2 separate regions of the Homo sapiens genome follow, and region 1 is linked to region 2. The links come from fine-mapping of genetic effects on gene expression. A gene starts in region 2. The other region holds a variant in brackets. All regions are shown on one strand. Distances are between the middles of the regions.

Region 1 (8,326 bases), 25 kb before region 2:
CTGGAAATGTTCCCGGGCCTGCTGTCAGCAGATGCAAACCCCCCGTACGCTGAGATTTAAGCAGCCCCAGAGCATCTGTGCGGCTTCACCTTGCAGGGTCTGCCTGCATGCCTGTCGCAGAGGCCCCTGTGCGGTGTCTCTGACTGTCAGGGTGCCCAGGTAGCTGAGGCTGCTGCTTCTATTTCAAGACTGCTTCAGGGAAGAAACCAGCAGACACAAATAATTAAAGAAACTCAGGCAGGAGCAATCAGGTGGCGCGGCAGCCAATGCAGGTGTGAAGCAGTTAAGTTTTGTTTTAATTTAAGACAGAAATGCTCCCCACCCCCGCTCCGCCCCTTTCTCTGGCAACATTTCTGCCATTTCCGGCAGAGCAGGTGCTCAGAGGCAGGAGTGTCAGCTGACTGACACCTGGAGAGGGCTGCACAGCCACGGGGCGTCTCACTCCTCCACACGCCACTCACGTTCTGCTCTCTGCTGGGGACATTTCTGACTAGATGGTGTCCCCAACCCAGGCACAGGCTGAGCCCCGTCCCTGCAGACAGGGTTGGAACTGGCTGAGCTGGGAGGTCCTCGAGTTGGGGGCAGGGGCACTGCAGGGCACAGACTTGAGAGCCAGGAAGGGCCGGTGTATTCAGGAACCTGAGATGTGGGGTGTGGCCAGCAGCCTAGTACCAGCAGGGCAGAGGCAGGAATCCCAGGAGAGGCATGTCAGGACAACAGCATGGGCTGGGGCCCTACAGAGGGCAGGGGAGGTGGGTATAGCAAGGGGCAGCCACCCAGGTGGGTTTCAGCAAGTTGCCCCATGGCTCTGTGGGGGCCACAGGGATAACAGCCCACTGCGGGGGGCCCAGGCCAGGCGGGACACACTGTGCGGCCCTCCACACAAGGTGCGGCCACTGCAGGTGGCCCCAGGTGAGAGGTTTCCATGGGGAAACAGAATACCCACTTCAGGGCCACGGGGGATAACAGCCCACTGCGGGTGGCCCAGGCCAGGCGGGACACACTGTGCGGCCCTCCACACAAGGTGCGGCCACTGCAGGTGGCCCCAGGTGAGAGGTTTCCACGGGGAAACAGAATACCCACTTCAGGGCCACGGGGGATAACAGCCCACTGCGGGGGGCCCAGGCCAGGCGGGACACGCCGTGTGGCCCTCCACACAAGGTGCGGCCACTGCACCTTTCAGTGTCATTTAATGACACTGAAAGCCACCCACATCCTACTTGGTTGCTGGAGCTAAAACGTCCAACCACGACCATCGCTCCAACCCTCACGTGGTCATGTGTGGAAACCAAGGTACAAGGAGGGCGTGTGGCTGTTCACTCACGAGAGCAAGGCCCACGGCCCCTCAGCCTCTGCACAGGGAGCTCAGTTGTGCCCGTGAGGGCCAAGATGGTGTCACAGAGAAGGAAATGCACAGAGATGAGACTCAGGATCCCTCGATCTTTGAAAACCTCAGGGCAACACAGTCAATCATGTGTGGTATCAGGTGTGGATACTGGCTTCAGAGAAAATAATTTCCTTTTAAATCAAGATTCCATTTCCCCATAATCCCTAAACCTTTCTCTGTGATGAGTTCACGTGTGATGAGCAGACTCTCATGTTAAAATCCTCACAGAAATGAGACAATGTCCTTTGTTCTTGTTCACCCTTGTCAGCTTTAGAATAACGCACAAGACAAGGAGGCAGCCACAGAGCACTGCACAGGCACCCACCTCCGCGTGCAGGGCCCCGTGAATCTCCCCACACCTACTATGGGGGCCTGTGGTCAGCGTCCCCTCAGGACGGGTGCCAGGGTCAGGCCAGTTCATATTTCTAACCAGATTCCCATCAACAACAACGGCCTCTGCTCTTTATCTCTTCCGCTTAGCCAAGGCCATCATGGCCCACGTCAGCCTGTCCCCGTGGACAGGGCCCCTGGGAGGAGCTGTGTGCCCGGGTGTGAGTCCCTTTGGCGTTCCGCCCTGGGCTCCCTCTGCCCACTGCTCTGTGAACGCACAGACGGACACGCAGCAGGCAGGGCCCAGAACACCAGCCAGTGCCCTTGCAACACCAGCCAGCACCTGCAGTGTCCAGGGGGCTGGTCCCCTGCGTGGAGGGGAGTCTGCCTCCAGGGGAAAGATGCACCAGTGTAACCACCCTGGGGGGCCTAGACTGGACACACGGCCGCCCACCTGCCAAGAGCAGAGTGGCTTACCTTGGTCCCCCTCTCGTCTCCCTCTGCGTGGATGGTGTAGGAGCAGGCTTCCCTCTGTGGGTTTTCTGAGACAATGCGCACCTGTACTCCAGGCAGTGGGGTCCCCACGGAACCTACAGGAGAGGAGAAACACTGAAGGGGAGGCTGGAGTGAGAGGAACCTGGAGGAGAGAAGCACACACTGAGCTCGGATCCCGCTGAGCTCCCGTGTGCCACGTGCGGGAGTCTGTGTGGAGGGAGCGACGTGCCCTGTGACCCAGAGAGAAGATGGTGTAGGCACCAGCAGGTGAAAAGCCACACGATACGTGGCTGGCAAGCACGGTGTGCTCAGGCCCAGCCGATGCCACAGTGATGGCCATGTGGCACAGCAGGCACTCACGTGGCACGCTGGGCCTGGCCTGCCCTGGGCCCCTCATACATCACTTTCCCAGTTACTTCCCAAAGCCTCACAGCTGCCCACAGATTCTGGTGTCATTCCCACTTTTACACACTTGCTGGCCAGGGAGGGCTGGCGCCTTGCCCTGATGGCCCCGGGGCTGTCCACGATGAGGGGACCTGTGTGTGCCCGGCACACGACGGGCTAAGGCAGGATCTGCCCTATGTCCCCAGGAGGGGCTGTCCTGAACTCTGCATGGCAGGTGGACCACACTTTGTACTGGCTCATTTATTAGACACCCATGATTTGCTCAGTGTATCCATCCCACCTGCACAGTCTCAACGTGGCTAAAATCATATCTTACACTGGCCGGGGTGGGGGCAGAGCCCAGGTGGCGAGACGTGTCCCGCCGGCACACGCAGGGCTGCCGCAGCCTCGCTCTGCCTGTGGTTTAGGTTGCTGGTGGGACGGCAGAGGCTGCTCATGGAGTGCGGCCCTGGCGATGTGGCGTCAGCACGGGCATGACCTAGGGGCAGAGCAGACGTGGGACTTCCTGTCTATCCCGGGGCGTGAGGCCTTTGCCCTGGCCTGCGTCAGGGGAGTGCCTGAACGCTTATCATGTCTGAGTCCACGCTGAGATTTCCGGCACTTCAAGGGTCAGCATCGAGGGTCAGTGCAGTGAACTCTGCAATCCATGGGGCGTCCCGGCCTCCAGACGCTTGGTGAGGGGCTGTCGGTGCCCGGCTCGGTCTTGCTGATCCTGCTGGGCCTGTCCACACCTGGGGTCCTGCAGGCGAAGCCGGGCTAGTGTGGTGTGCGGAGTGTCACCTCGGGAGTTCTCTGTGGTTCCAGGTATGCAGACGCCCCGAACCTCCACTCTGGTCAGAAACCCGTGTCACCACTATGGGGGGTGTGGCGGGGCCAGCTTCAGCCCCCTTTCTTCCATCCTTTCTCCTCCTTTATGTTTTGCTTCTGAAGATTTTTAAATGGGGGTGAAACCCGCATAACACATGACTTCCCATTTCAGTGCGCGGCACGGCGGTGTTCCGCACACACATTGCACAGCCCCCCACTTCCCCTAGTCAGAACTCCCGCACAGCCCACGACCGCCACACCCTCCCTCCCCAGACCTGGCACCAGGTCTGCTGTCCGCGTCCGTGGTTTTTCTGTTCTGGGCGTTTCATAAGAAGAGGACCATCACAGGCGGCCTTTCGCCTCTTCCTGGTGATGCCTCTACTGGGGCGGGGACGCAGCGCAAGGACACGGCACGGCTGGGGTAGGGGCGGGGGCCGCAGGTGGGGAGGCCGTGTGGCCGTCCCACACCATCTGCAGAGGCTGAAGAGGCTCTGGGATGGTGTCTGGATTCTGCAGCAGCCAAGCAGTGGTATTGTCCATGAGAGCTCAAGGAGTGGCCCCCACACTCCAGGTGCCGCCCGTGAGAGCTTCAGGGAGGGGCCCCCACACTCCAGGTGCCACCCATGAAAGCTTGAGGCAGGGGCCCCCACACTCCAGGTGCCACCCGTGAGAGCTCGAGGGAGGGGTCCCCACACTCCAGGTGCCGCTCGCTGTGCCCCGGGCATGTGACAGTGTGGACATGAGAGCTCAAGAGAGTGGACAGAGGCTGGCCCCGCAAAGGCCAATGTAGATGGGAGCGCAGCTGCAGGCAGGTGGGGGGCACTGCCTTCCTGCCACAGCCCACCTCTAAAATCGCTGTCAGCCAGCCCCTCCCTGATAACTCTGACTGGGGACTGGGACCCAGGGAACGGAAACC[G/A]CCAATGAGGCCCTGGAGCTCCCTGTCAATGCCACAGAGTGGCCCAGGAGCCGTGAGCACCTCTGAGCTCAACCTCCAATTAGAGTGTGACGAGGCCCAGCAGTGGTCGGCCATGAATTATTCATCTCCCTCCACAGGAACCGCACGGAGCAGGCCTGTAACCATAACACACGACAGAGCTCACCCTCCACCCAGCTTCTCTCTCTTCCGAGCACGGACAGTGCACTGAGCAGCGAGGCCAAGCATGAGCTCAGAGCCTGTGGCTGGAGCCGACCCAAGGGTCAAGGCCATGGCCACCAGGGTGGGGGTTAGAGCCTGAGAGTGAGGAAAGCTCTCCTCCACCGTGCCCTCTAGAAACATGGCTCAGGAGGCTGCATTTTGGAGTTTTTGTGGGGCATATTGGATTTAATGCTGAGGTGACTTTACTTACTTTTTTCCAAACCAAAGAACTCACACTGCTGGTGATTTAAAGGCAAGGATAAAATCACAGATATTTGATTCTGCCTTAGAGAAGAGGGAGCGTCCCCGGCGCCCCAGGGAAACTGCCGTATGCTCTGCCTTAGAGAAGAGGGAACATCCCTGGCGCCCGAGGGAACCTGCCGTCAGGCTCTGCCTTAGAGAAGAGAGAGCGTCCCCGGCGCCCGAGGGAATCTGCCGTGGGCTCTGCCTTAGAGAAGAGAGAGCGTCCCCGGCGCCCGAGGGAACCTGCCGTGGGCTCTGCCTTAGAGAAGAGGGAACGTCCCTGGCGCCTGAGGGAACCTGCTGTGGGCTCTGCCTTAGAGAAGAGGGAATGTCCTTGGCGCCTGAGGGAACCTACTGTGGGCTCTGCCTTAGAGAAGAGGGAGCATCCCCGGCACCCGAGGGAACCTGCCGTCGGTAGCTGAAGACTCGGGGATTGGTGCACTCAGGTTTCTTGCCCAATAACCCTGAAGCTTCAGGGTCTCTGGATCCCCCTCCTCAGCCGGGGACTCCTCTCCCTGTGCCATCTGTCTGGGGCTCCTTCCTGTTCGCCTAGGAGTTCTGATTCCAGCGTGGGGAAGCTGAGCCTCCCCTGGGTCTCTGGGCTACTATCTGCTCCTTGGCGCCCTCGGTGTGGACGGCGGTCCCTGGGCTGCTCCTTGGCGCTCTTGGTGTGGACGGCGGTCCCTGGGCTGCTCCTGACGCTCTCAGTGTAGACAGTGGTCCCTGGGCTGCTCCTGACATCCTCGGTGTAGACAGCAGTCCCCGGGCTGCTCCTGACTCCCTGGGTGTAGACAGTGGTCCCTGGGCTGCTCATGACTCCCTCGGTGTAGACAGTGGTCCCTGGGCTGCTCCTGATTTCAGCTTCTCAGCCTTGTATCTGTTCCAGTAAAAAAGGCTAGGGGGGCACTGTCCATCTTCTCTAGTGAGGGCCATTGAAGAGGTCACCGTGCTCCTGGGAAGTGCATCACTCACCAGCCGCGTGACCGTGGGCAGGCTCATGGGTTCTTGTATGTGAGTGCAAAATATGACCCCATCGCAGGGGCTGTTTCGAGAAGATCAAAAGAGAGGACGCCCACAAAGCAATGCTGTGGATGAACAGTCATCATGAACTACAAACTGTGCAGACAGATTCTGAATACACAGAACTTGTCCTGCTCACATGTCCGGAACAAAGAGAGGACAAAGCCCAGAGCCCGTTACCCTTTCAGTCCTCACTTGCCTGCAGCCTGCAGCCTCAGCGAGCCGGGCTTTGCTCATTCCGTCCATATTACGTGGTGACTGTGGCCGGTGGCACTGGACAAAACCAGCACATCCTACTAAGAAGGACAACGATAAGGACAGAGACTCAACAGACCAGTCACATTTGATTTCAAGGTCCCCATCTTATTTCCACCAGAGAGCTTTAGCCACCGAAGAAACAGCTGGTGCCGCAGCCATCGTGGAGATGCGCGAGTCAGCCCAGAGCAGGGGCCGCTAGCACTGACGGAGGTGGAGGTTTCCTGGGGTCTGAGACTAACGCGGGAGCCGGCCCAGGGCAGGGGCCACCAGCACTGACGGCGGTTTCCTGGGGTCTGAGACTAGGATGTATTTCTCATCACTCACACTGACTTCTTTTCACAACATGCCCCCACCCGCCCACTGCCCTGGGCACTGTTGCAGCAGGCACTGCACTCTGTGCGGCCACCCCACTGGCAGCTCTGCACGGCAGCTGAGGATCTCGCTGCCATGGCCCTGTCATTCTGCTCAGGATGCCCCAGCCAAACCGAGACTTTACACTCAGAATACACTTAACAGCCCCCATGGCTCCCCAGGCCCAGCAAAGGGGCGTGAGCCTACAGTCTCTCCTCCTCCCAGCCCAGCAGCCAGCCAGCCCTCACACTCACCTTGCAGGCCCCAGCACCGTATCGCTGCCTGGCACCAGCTGGTCCCTGCCTGGGCCTGAACCCCCATGTCCACGCTTACCCTAGAGTCCCAGGAACCAAGCAGGCATGGAATGAGCCAAAGGGCACACGGAAAGCAATGGGACAGAGCAGAGCCCAGGAGCCGACCCCTCAGGAGTCGACGGACTTTCAACAAAGATCCAAAGGGCTGTTCGATGGAGAAGGGAGTCTTTTCAACGAACAGTGCTAAAAAGTTAGACATTCACACACTAAAAAAGAACTGTGGTCCGTATCTCGCACTATGTACAAACATTAACTCAAAATGGATCATGGTCCCAAACGTAAGAGCTGAAACTATTCTCTGTGACTTTGGGCTACGCAAGGATTTATTAGATATGACATCAGACAATTCACAAAACAAATTGATAAACCGGGCCAAAACCTAAAACTCCTGATTTTAAAGACGCTGTTAGGTGAATGGGAAGACAAACCACAAGCTGGGAGATGATATTTAAAATCGCACAGCTGACACTTGGGTCCCGAATTTTAAAAGCTCTCAAAACTCAAGAAAACAAAGGCCCCAGTTGAAAACGGAATGACACGAACAGGAAGAGGTGCTCAACGCCACCCATCATGAGAGAATCATGAACTCAACGAGACACCACCACCGCCCGCTGGAGCAGCAGGTGCTCGTGACCTCCCACCCATTGCAGGGGGAAGGGGATGGTGTAGCCGCTCTGGAGAACAGCTTGAAAGCTTCAGACAACACAGCAATCTCTCTCCTAGGTATCTGCCCAGGTGAAATAAAAAACCACGTTCGCACAGAAACCTGCACACAAATGTTGATAACATCTCACGTGTCATTGCTTAAAACAGGGTCACAAGCGGTGCCGCACCCACACCACGGATGCCACTCAGCAGGGAAAGGCGCGGGCTCTGACGCACACAGCACAGGCAGTTGACTGTGGGCGGAAGCCGGGCGGAAGCAGACAGGCTCAGAGGCCACGTCCTGCAGGATTTAGCCACGTGGCCTCCCAGAAAAAGCAAAACCACAAGAAGAGAAACAGGAACAAGGGGCCAGGCCTCGGGGGTGGAGGAGGTGCTGAGCACTAGGAAGGGAGTTTCTGAGGCGAGGAACCCTTCTCTATTTTGACTGTGATGATGTTTCTTAAGACACACAGAGCTGCACGCCAGAGGGGTGAATTTTTACTGGGTCTGCAGGTAAGCAGCTGCACAGACAGATGTGCGGGATGGTCTCACTTTAAGTCTGCACTGAGATCTCTCTTCTACTCTAGACAGACTGGAAGGGCTGCGCAGAAAGCAGCAGGGTGGCCCCCCAGCTGTGGGCTCTGTTCCCAGAAGTCCCAGCGGAGGACCCAGGGCTCAAATGGTTGGGTCAGATGAAAGTCAGAATGGGATGTGTTAGGGAAGGCTGGACAAGAGGGGCCCGGTATCAGGAGCCCACATCTAGAGAAGGAAGACAGGTGCTTGACTCATCCCACCCTGCCCACCACACCCACCTCTCCTGGCACTGCTGCTGGCGCTGTGTGGCACCCGGACTCCAGACAGACGGAGGCTGCCACCACTGCTGATGTGGTCTGGAGCCAACAGCATGGCCCCCCGCCTTCCTCTGAGACATGCACT
Region 2 (8,326 bases):
AGGCTGGAGTGCAGTGGCACGATCTCGGCTCACTGCAAGCTCCGCCTCCCAGGTAGCCTGGGGCTCTTAATGAAGTCCCCTGTCCCAGCCAGCTGAGGGATCTCCTGCCTCTGGCCCAGGCAGGAGGAAAACGAGCCACGCAGGGCCCTGAACCTCAGCACAGCTCCGCGGGCTGCTTGGACGTCCTGTGTGAGTCTTCTCTGAATCCTACCAAACGGTCAGTCCTGCAGGCCACATCATCTCCTGACGCGAGGCACCCATGTTCTAGAAGCCCTCCACAGCTGTTCAGAGGCAGGGCAGTGGCTGGTCCGCCCACACACCTGGACTCTGCTACCATAGAGAAACCCAGAGAATGGCAAGAAAACAACTGGGCTTCACCAGACACAAGACACGAGATCGGCACGTGGGCTGTGCCAGCTTCAGAAAGCAGCAAACCAGGGCGGCCCCACCACGCTTCCTTCCTCACTTCCAACCGATCCTGCACTGCTTTACAGGTGTGAGGGCACAGAAACAAGGAGAATCCACACACAGAAAACCGACTGGGCACTGGGTGCTCTGGGTTACGGCCCCGAGGCCAGACTTCCGCTGCTGAGAGCCACAGGGAGTGCCTTGGGTGCTCGGAGCAGGGGACGGTGCTTTCTGGGGTGCTAAGGAGCGGAGCACTAGGACGGCCGGCGACACTCACTCAATATAGAAGGTGCCTGTCATTGTGTGTAGCTGTTTCTCAATATGACAGAAGCACATAAAAGGGGGATGACGGCTTCCCTCTAACTAAAGCTGCTGCTCAGAAAAGGTTTCTGCAGACCACAAAGAACCGAGTTCTGACAAAGCGAGTTCAAGCTCGTGCTGTGCACACGGTAACCACACGCTGAGCACACGCTAACCACACGCTGAGCACACACAGCACACACTACCAGAGCACAGCCCCCCTTTTGGCATTTCTACAAATTCCTGAGTCACCCCGCAGGGCGAAGCCACGGAAGAATAAGAGTGGATTCCCCACAAAACCCAGAGCTCAGCAGAGCTGGTGATGCTGACGTGCACAGCTGGGCTGGGCAAACTCAAAGTGCAGGCTGAGAAGAAACTGCTGTTCTCCTGCGCGGAATCCAGAGCGCTGCCTGTGGGTGGGCACTCCTGCCACCAGCCCCTGGGAGGTGACAGATGTGACTGGCCCCGTGTGACATGGTCCCAGCTCCCAGAGAGCCCACGCGCTATGAGGAGAGGCCACGGGCAGGAGGAACGGACGGGGGCCTGGTGGGGAGGCTTCCTATGGAGGGTGAGAAGGGCCTGGCCTAGCCAGAGTCGGCCGAGGGAAGGGGGGAGTCCTGGCACCTACAGCTGTGTTCACTCGGGGTGTCTAGGGCACAGATGCCGGGAAGTCACATTGCTGGGTCATCTTTAATTTTGAGAAATACTGACAAAGTCCCCTCCAACGAGGTGCTGATTTATTCTCCCACCAAGCATGTGGAAAACGGAACCAGCCCCATCAAACCAGCTTTTCAGTCCCTCAGGCTTGGGACAATGAAGTGCCCAGTCATCAGTTCTCTTCAGCACAGAGGTTGAATCTTCACGGTCATCGGATCAGAGCCCTGCCTCGAACACGCAGACAGAGCCTACTCAGGGCAGATGGCTGTGCGCGGTCTTCCTGCACACCTCCCGGTCCAGAGGCACCCCAGCTTCCTCAGAGAGAACCTCACCTTTCAACCACTGGGACCCCTTCTACCGTGGGGCTCCCCATCACCACCAGGAGCACAGTGTGGAGGGACACTGCCCACCAGACAAATGCAGTTCAGTCAGGGGCTTCCACCCTCAGCCAGCTTCATACCCCTGCTACGCAGCACCCTGATAACCCGAGGTCAGCGGCGTCACCACGTGGCTGGGCAAGGACTCTAGTCAGAAGCTGAGAAAGGTGCCTGAGCCAGGACAGCCTCCTTGGTGAAGGCGTACTGGAACCACTGAAAACAGTGGCTCTCCAGCCCTCGGGGAGGGAGGCAGGACCTCTCGGTGTTCTAGCCATCAGGTTCTGAGATCAGACCACTAAGGCACTGGGGCTTCTCGGGAACACACATGCAGCGCAGCGGGATGCATCTTTTCCCTCCTAACTGGAGTGCTGGTTAATGGCAGAGTTAGTCACCACAGGCTTCGACTTGAACGGCTGCTGCCTTTGTCCTCATTTCCTCACTGGCCTAGCCCTTCACTTCCCACCGCTAAGATGGCACAGTAACAAGACCTGCCTCACAGGCTTCACGTGAGAATGTACGAATGGCCCGGCACAGGCCAGGCAGAAGACAAACGGCCGCGCCGTGCTCAGCAGGGTGCTCCCCATGGAGCCTCGCAACAAAAATTACTAGATGAGAATGACACTCGCATTCAAATGAAGGGCTGCTTTCAACATGAATAAAACGACACCTGACCTGTTCACCACCACACCTGACACCCCCGCCCCCCCAGACCTTGTGTTTGAAGTGGATGCCGGCACTTCCTCCTGTCGGCTGCCCCGATGAGAGCGTGGGGCAGAGGAGGGCTGTGCTCGGCCTGCGGGGCAGGATGCGTTTCAGCATCACACCTGTGGTTTGGAGGGTTATTTTCAAAATTACATTTTTAAGTAACAGACATTCACATTGCATTCATGAGCAGTACATTCAAATAAAAAAAACCAAAAAGGAAAAATACACTTGAAACCCATATCCATTTTAGGAAGAAAAATACTATTTTAAAAATGCCATCTGGAAAGGTGACACTTACAACTATCCCAAGCCCACAGTTTAATCCGCCATTTCTGTCTGCCTTGAGGAGATGGTTCAGAGCCAAAGGAGCAAGAGCAAGGGAAGCCTCATCTTATGTCCTCCAACACCTGCGGAGAGGACACCAGCCTGAGCCAGGCTTCACGCTACAAAGCTCGCAGGGTCCCCAGGGTCCACCGGTAGTAACACCCGTGCTCCTGGGTCCACCATGTGAACCCCCTCCTCAACAAGGTCTCAGCCTTGGGCCCTAACACGAATGTCTGTCCTCCCAGGATGGGAAAGCAACAACTATGCCCCAGACACAATTCGTGTTCCTATCTCTAAACGTGTTCCCTTTCTAGCAAATTCCTAATCATTCTTCCAAGCCCAGTTCAAATATCACCTCTTCTTTTTCAGTTTTATTATTTATTGAGACAGTGTCTTGCTCTGCCACCTAGGCTGGAGTGCAATGGTGCTGTCATGGCTCACTGCAGCCTCCGATTCCTGGGCTCAAGAAATCCTCGTGCCTCAGCCTAACCAGTAGCTGGAAGTGCAGGTGTACGCCACCACACCCAGCTAATTTTTACATTTTTTTGTAGAGATAGGGGTCTCACCATGTTGCCCAGGCTGGCTTTGAACTCCTGGCCACAAGTGATCCTCCTGCCTCTGCTGCCCAAAGCGCTGGGATTACAGGCATGAGCCACTGCACCTGGCCTGCCTGGTGGAATTTAGACTCAGGACAGCAACATCAACTCCTGACTGCACCGGGCCTCACCCCTTTAAACCTTCCCTCTCTCCAGGGAATGGGCTGCCTGCAGTACCTTCCAAATACTTCACGGCCGGCCGCACGTCTCCATTGCTTGCTCATAGATCTACATGCCCTCAGGGGCTAGGCCGGCTGTGAACCTGTGCCCCACGCGCCCAGCAAGGTGCACGCAGCAAACAACTAAAACGGGGAGTACTTCAAGGGTGACTTCTGAAGCCCAATGAGAAATGGAAGTGAATTTATTCCAAACACAACCAAAGACGATTCGTTCTGAGGATGCCTGAACACGGACCCCGCCGGCTCGACGGTATCACCGGGCCCGGCGTCCGCACAGCTTCTCTCCCCGCACCCCGCGCGGGGGCCCCGCTCCCCACCGGACACGAGAGGCTCGGCGTCCCGGGAAGGCCGACGCCCGGCCCCAGGCGGCTCGCGGGGAAGCGACCGCGCCACGGGCCACGGCTCAAGCCCAGCTGCGACCCAGGGGCGGGCGCCGGAGCCCGCGCCCCCGAGAGCTCTGCGCCCGGCCGACCCCGCCGCGGTCCCGTGGGCCCCGCCGCCCGCACCTACGAGACGGCCGCGGCCACGGGGCAGGATCTGCCTCGCCACAACTCTTCCTCGTCCTCCGCCGCGCGCGCGCCGGGGTCGGGCCGGGTTCCGGCCGGGTCCCGCGGGGTCGTGAGTCGGGCCGGACCAGTTCCGGCGCCCAACAGCTTCCCCGGCGCGGCGCGTCCGTCGCCCAAGCGCGTCCCCCCGGCGCGGCGCCGTGGCGGCGGGTTCCGGGCGCGCGTGTTCCCCTGTCCCGCCCGTCCCGTCGTGGCGGGGTCGGGGCCGCGGGCGTCTCGTGAGCCGTGGCCGAGGCAAGGCGCCGTGGTCTCCGCTAGCCCAGGGCTGCCCAGATCAGAACGGCGCGCGGGACCACTCCCAACGCGGATTGCTGGGCCTCGCCCCGTCCTCCCAAAAGGGGCTCTCTGGGCTTTGCGGCTGGGGGTCTGCACGCTGAGCTCCTGGGTGATTTTATTATTATTATTATTGTTGTTACTTTTTCTTATTATTATTATTATTTTGAGATGGAGTCTCGCTCTGTCGCCCAGACTAGAGTGCAGTGGTGTGATCTCGGCTCACCGCAACCTCCGCCTCCCGGGTTCAAGTGATTCTCCTGCCTCAACCTCCCAATTAGCTGGGACTACAGGCGCCCGCCATCATGCCTGTCTAATTTTTGTATTTCTTGGGTGATTTTAAACGGACCGCATTTGAGAATCTCTCCTCGAAGGGACTTGGGAACCAGGATACGAATATGAAGCGAGACTGTTGGATGGACAGTGGCGGAAAACATTTAAAGCCAAACACAAAGTCCAGTTGGCTGAAATTTGAGGGTTTTTCCCCTAAAATGAATACTAATAACACAAAGACATGTACTGGCAAACAGTAGTACAAATTATCTGCAGAACCGTCCTGGTGTGATGGCTCACGCCTGTAATCCCAGCACTTTGGGAGGCCGAGGTAGGCAGATCACGAGGTCAGGAGTTCAAGACCAGCCTGACCAACATGGTGAAACCCTGTCTCTCCTAAAAATACAAAAATTAGCCGGGAGTGGTGGCAGGTGCCTGTAATCCCAGTTACTCGGGAGGCTGAGGCAGGAGAATCTCTTGAGCCTGGGAGGTGGCGACTGCAGTGAGCTGAGATTGCGCCACTGCACTCCAGCCTGGGCAGCAGAGTGAGACTGTCTCAAAAAAAAAAAAAAATTATCTGCAGAACCTTGCACAGTTTTTTTGTAAGTGTATTATTTTCCATGCCCATCTTCCTCTCTTGTGATGATTGCTGGGGCAGCAGTTGTGTCCTTGGAAAGCTCAGGAAAGGGCACTTCAGGAGCCCGAGGATGGTTTTCCTGGGAGGAAGGAGCTGGATCTGGGGGAAGTTTGTAACACAGAGCGTGGGAGAACAAACCCAAACTTCTAGTGCCTCTGGTTGCCACCCTGCTAGGTATCATGCAGAAAAAGCAAGTCCAACCCTCTGCCACTGGGACAGGCTTGATCTGGTGTCAGAATTCTGTCTGCTTCCAGGACTCAGCAGGCTGAATGGTGTTTCCGACGAGGGCAGTAGGAAGAGTAAGGAGGGCGTCTAACATCAGGATTCAGCCCCAGGACGTGTGTGCGCAAATTTCTATCCCTGGGAAGTTGAAGAGCTCAGGCTGCGTCACCCACCTAGAGACAGGACTTGGGACAGGGTGACAGCTCCCGTGGTCCTTGGCCATGGCTCTGTGAGGGTGGCAGTGGGGGGAGGGTGCAGTCTCCGAGAAATGGCCCAGTCATCCTATGAGCAGGGGTCCCATCTGTGCCTCGGCTCTGGTCAGCATCATAGTGGCAGGTGGGAAGCAGGAGCAGTCAGGGATTAGCAGACATTGGAGGACAGCCTCTAGCCAGAGAGACGTGGGCTGAAACAACCAGCAGAACAACTGCAGGCAGCCAGGCTGTGCAGAGTGAAGAGACCCCCAAAACCACCCCCTGTTAATACCCTCAGGGAGACAAGGGAAGCGACAGCCCCCATGAGTCCAGAGCGAGATGCCCCGAGAAAGAGCGTTCCAGTAACATAAAGGGGGGCTGGAGGGGTCAGAATACAACAGCCTGAGTAAAAACCCTAAGGGAAGGGCTAAAGGACGTCTCCTAGAAATAGAACAGAAAGACCGAGAGATGAAAAACAGGAGAGGAAAGATAAAAAAATCAGTGGGCTCAGGCAGGCATCCAATATGCTAAATACGGTAGTTTCAGGAAGGGAGGGCAGAGAAAACAGAGAGAAGTCAGCTGTCAGGTAAACTCGTGGACATTAGCAGACGAAGGGCTGCAGAACATCCAGCGCAGGGAGTGAAAGTGGCCGCACCAACCAGGCAGACGACGTCAATGTAGTTTAGAACATGTGGACAGGGAGGGTCCTAAGTGCCCACCTGGCATCTCACTGGGACATCCAAGAGACATCAGACCCCGATGTGGCCCCAGAGGAGCTCAGGTCTCCCCCGCAGCAGCGCCCCCACCCTCACACTTTGCATCTCACCCTCGATCCTGGGGTTCAGTCTATGGCTCCCTGCTTCCCTCCCACACCACATTGAGTCCTACTGGTTTCTCCTGCAAATTCTGTCAGAGACTGTCCCACCAGCGCTGCTGTAACCACCCAGACCAGGAAAGCCTTGTTTCCTAAAGGAGTCCTCACTGGATTCATGAAGAACCCAACAGTGGCTGGAGTAGCCCCATTAAAACCTGAGTGGGATCCTGCTCAGAACCCACAGGGGGTCCTGCCCAAGCCCTGTTGTGGCCACCAGGTCCCCGAGCCCCGCCCTCCTCCCCTCTGGCCTTGTTTCCTGTGACTCCCGGGAGTCCTGGCCTGGCAGGCAGGGGCAATCCCCCCGCGGGAAGATGGTGGACAGAGTGTCCTGTGTGTTTACCATGTTGAGAGGAGACTTGAACAATGCAAGCAAAGTTTAGGGATAGATGATCAATACATAGAAAACTAATCAAGAAAAATAAGGCAGAGATTAAACACTGGGAACACAGGAAGATGTGTTTGCCAGCAAAGGGCACGTGATCATGTTGCTGTAGGAGGCTCCGCTGTCCATAGCATTTACTAAACTACGATCATTTCAACATCTACAGTGTAACCATCAGCATGCAAAACTGCCGCTGATCGAACGAGTTTATCGCAGACGACGGGAGGGACCCGGGGTGGAAGGTGTGTGGTGTGGCCTGGGCAGGCCTGGCAGGAGACCACAGGAACCTCCAGGGGGTAAACACCAAGAGAATCAGAACAAAGGTTCACCTCTGGTGAGCAGGAAGGGGAGGGTAGTTCTTTAAACTTTGTGGACGTACAACTGATAAGTATAAAAGTTAAACTACACTATGAAATAGTTTTTAGAGGAAGAGGAAAGGAAACACTCCAGGTGACCACGTGAACTCGGCCACTTTCAGCTGGATTCTTGCCCCTGTTCCCTAAATAAACCAAGAGGATTCCGGGAAGTCGCCTTCCAGCAGGTGCATGTCATGGAGAGGAACAAGATGACTCTCCATGGGCCAAGCCTTATCATCGTGCCACCAGCTGCTACTGTCTAATACCAGACACGGAACACCCCCACGGCCTCTCCTGGCCTCCTGCCTTTCAGGAGACTCGCTGGCAGGAGTGTCTGTGCAGGTGCAAATGTGCCCTCAGGCACGTTCCCAGCACGAGGGTGCAGGTGGGAGGAGAAATACGTGCCGTGTGGTGATAAGCACAAGAGTGCTGCAGGAGCACACGGCCAGGACTTCAGACACGAGTGCCAGGGCCCCTCTCTGCGGTGCATGGAGCTGGGCTCTGAGGGCAGTGACAATGACTCTCGGGCAAAGGATTGCATTGTGCCGTTTTACGAATGAGGAAACTGAGGCTCGGGGAATTGATGTCACTTGTCCATGCTTACGTACCTAGAAAGCGGCCGAGCTGGGATTTGAAACCAGAATTTGGCATCCTTTACCCCCACCCCTGCCCCCAGACATGCCTCTCTTTGCATCGCTGTGAGATTCAATGAACAAATGACACCCCCCTCTGCTGAAAACCAAACTTTTCTGCATGCAACACCAGACCAACTCCTTCATAAAGAACAAATGATCTGCAAAGCTGGATCCTCAATGATGTTTGTGCCAGGGTGGTTTACAGCAGCCACAAATCAGGAAACAGCCTGGATATCCCAGCACAGACTTTAGTGAATCAGGAGATGGCCAAATAAGAGCGGCTCTGCAGCCATTAATCATGACGCCAAATAGAAACGTGGGAATTGTGTATGACGGTCTAATGTTGAATGAGAACCTCAAACTTAAAAATC

What was found.
Region 1: its variant is fine-mapped to the expression of ACSF3 in whole blood (TOPMed, PIP above 0.99).

The regions. Positions count from the first base shown.
Region 1 is chr16:89,114,782-89,123,107 of GRCh38, reverse strand. It overlaps ACSF3 (acyl-CoA synthetase family member 3), which reads right to left. Exons shown (of 11, transcript NM_001243279.3): 7 at 2,195-2,307. Among named protein-coding and RNA genes, the nearest start is that of ACSF3, 25 kb to the right of the region's middle. RefSeq lists enhancers at 4,293-4,587, 7,942-8,326 and silencers at 4,293-4,587, 8,253-8,326. The variant G/A (reference allele first, on the strand shown) is at 4,341.
Region 2 is chr16:89,089,723-89,098,048 of GRCh38, reverse strand. It overlaps ACSF3 (acyl-CoA synthetase family member 3), which reads right to left and starts at 4,197. Exons shown (of 11, transcript NM_001243279.3): 1 at 4,053-4,197. RefSeq lists enhancers at 2,025-2,194, 3,414-3,603 and a silencer at 4,024-4,433.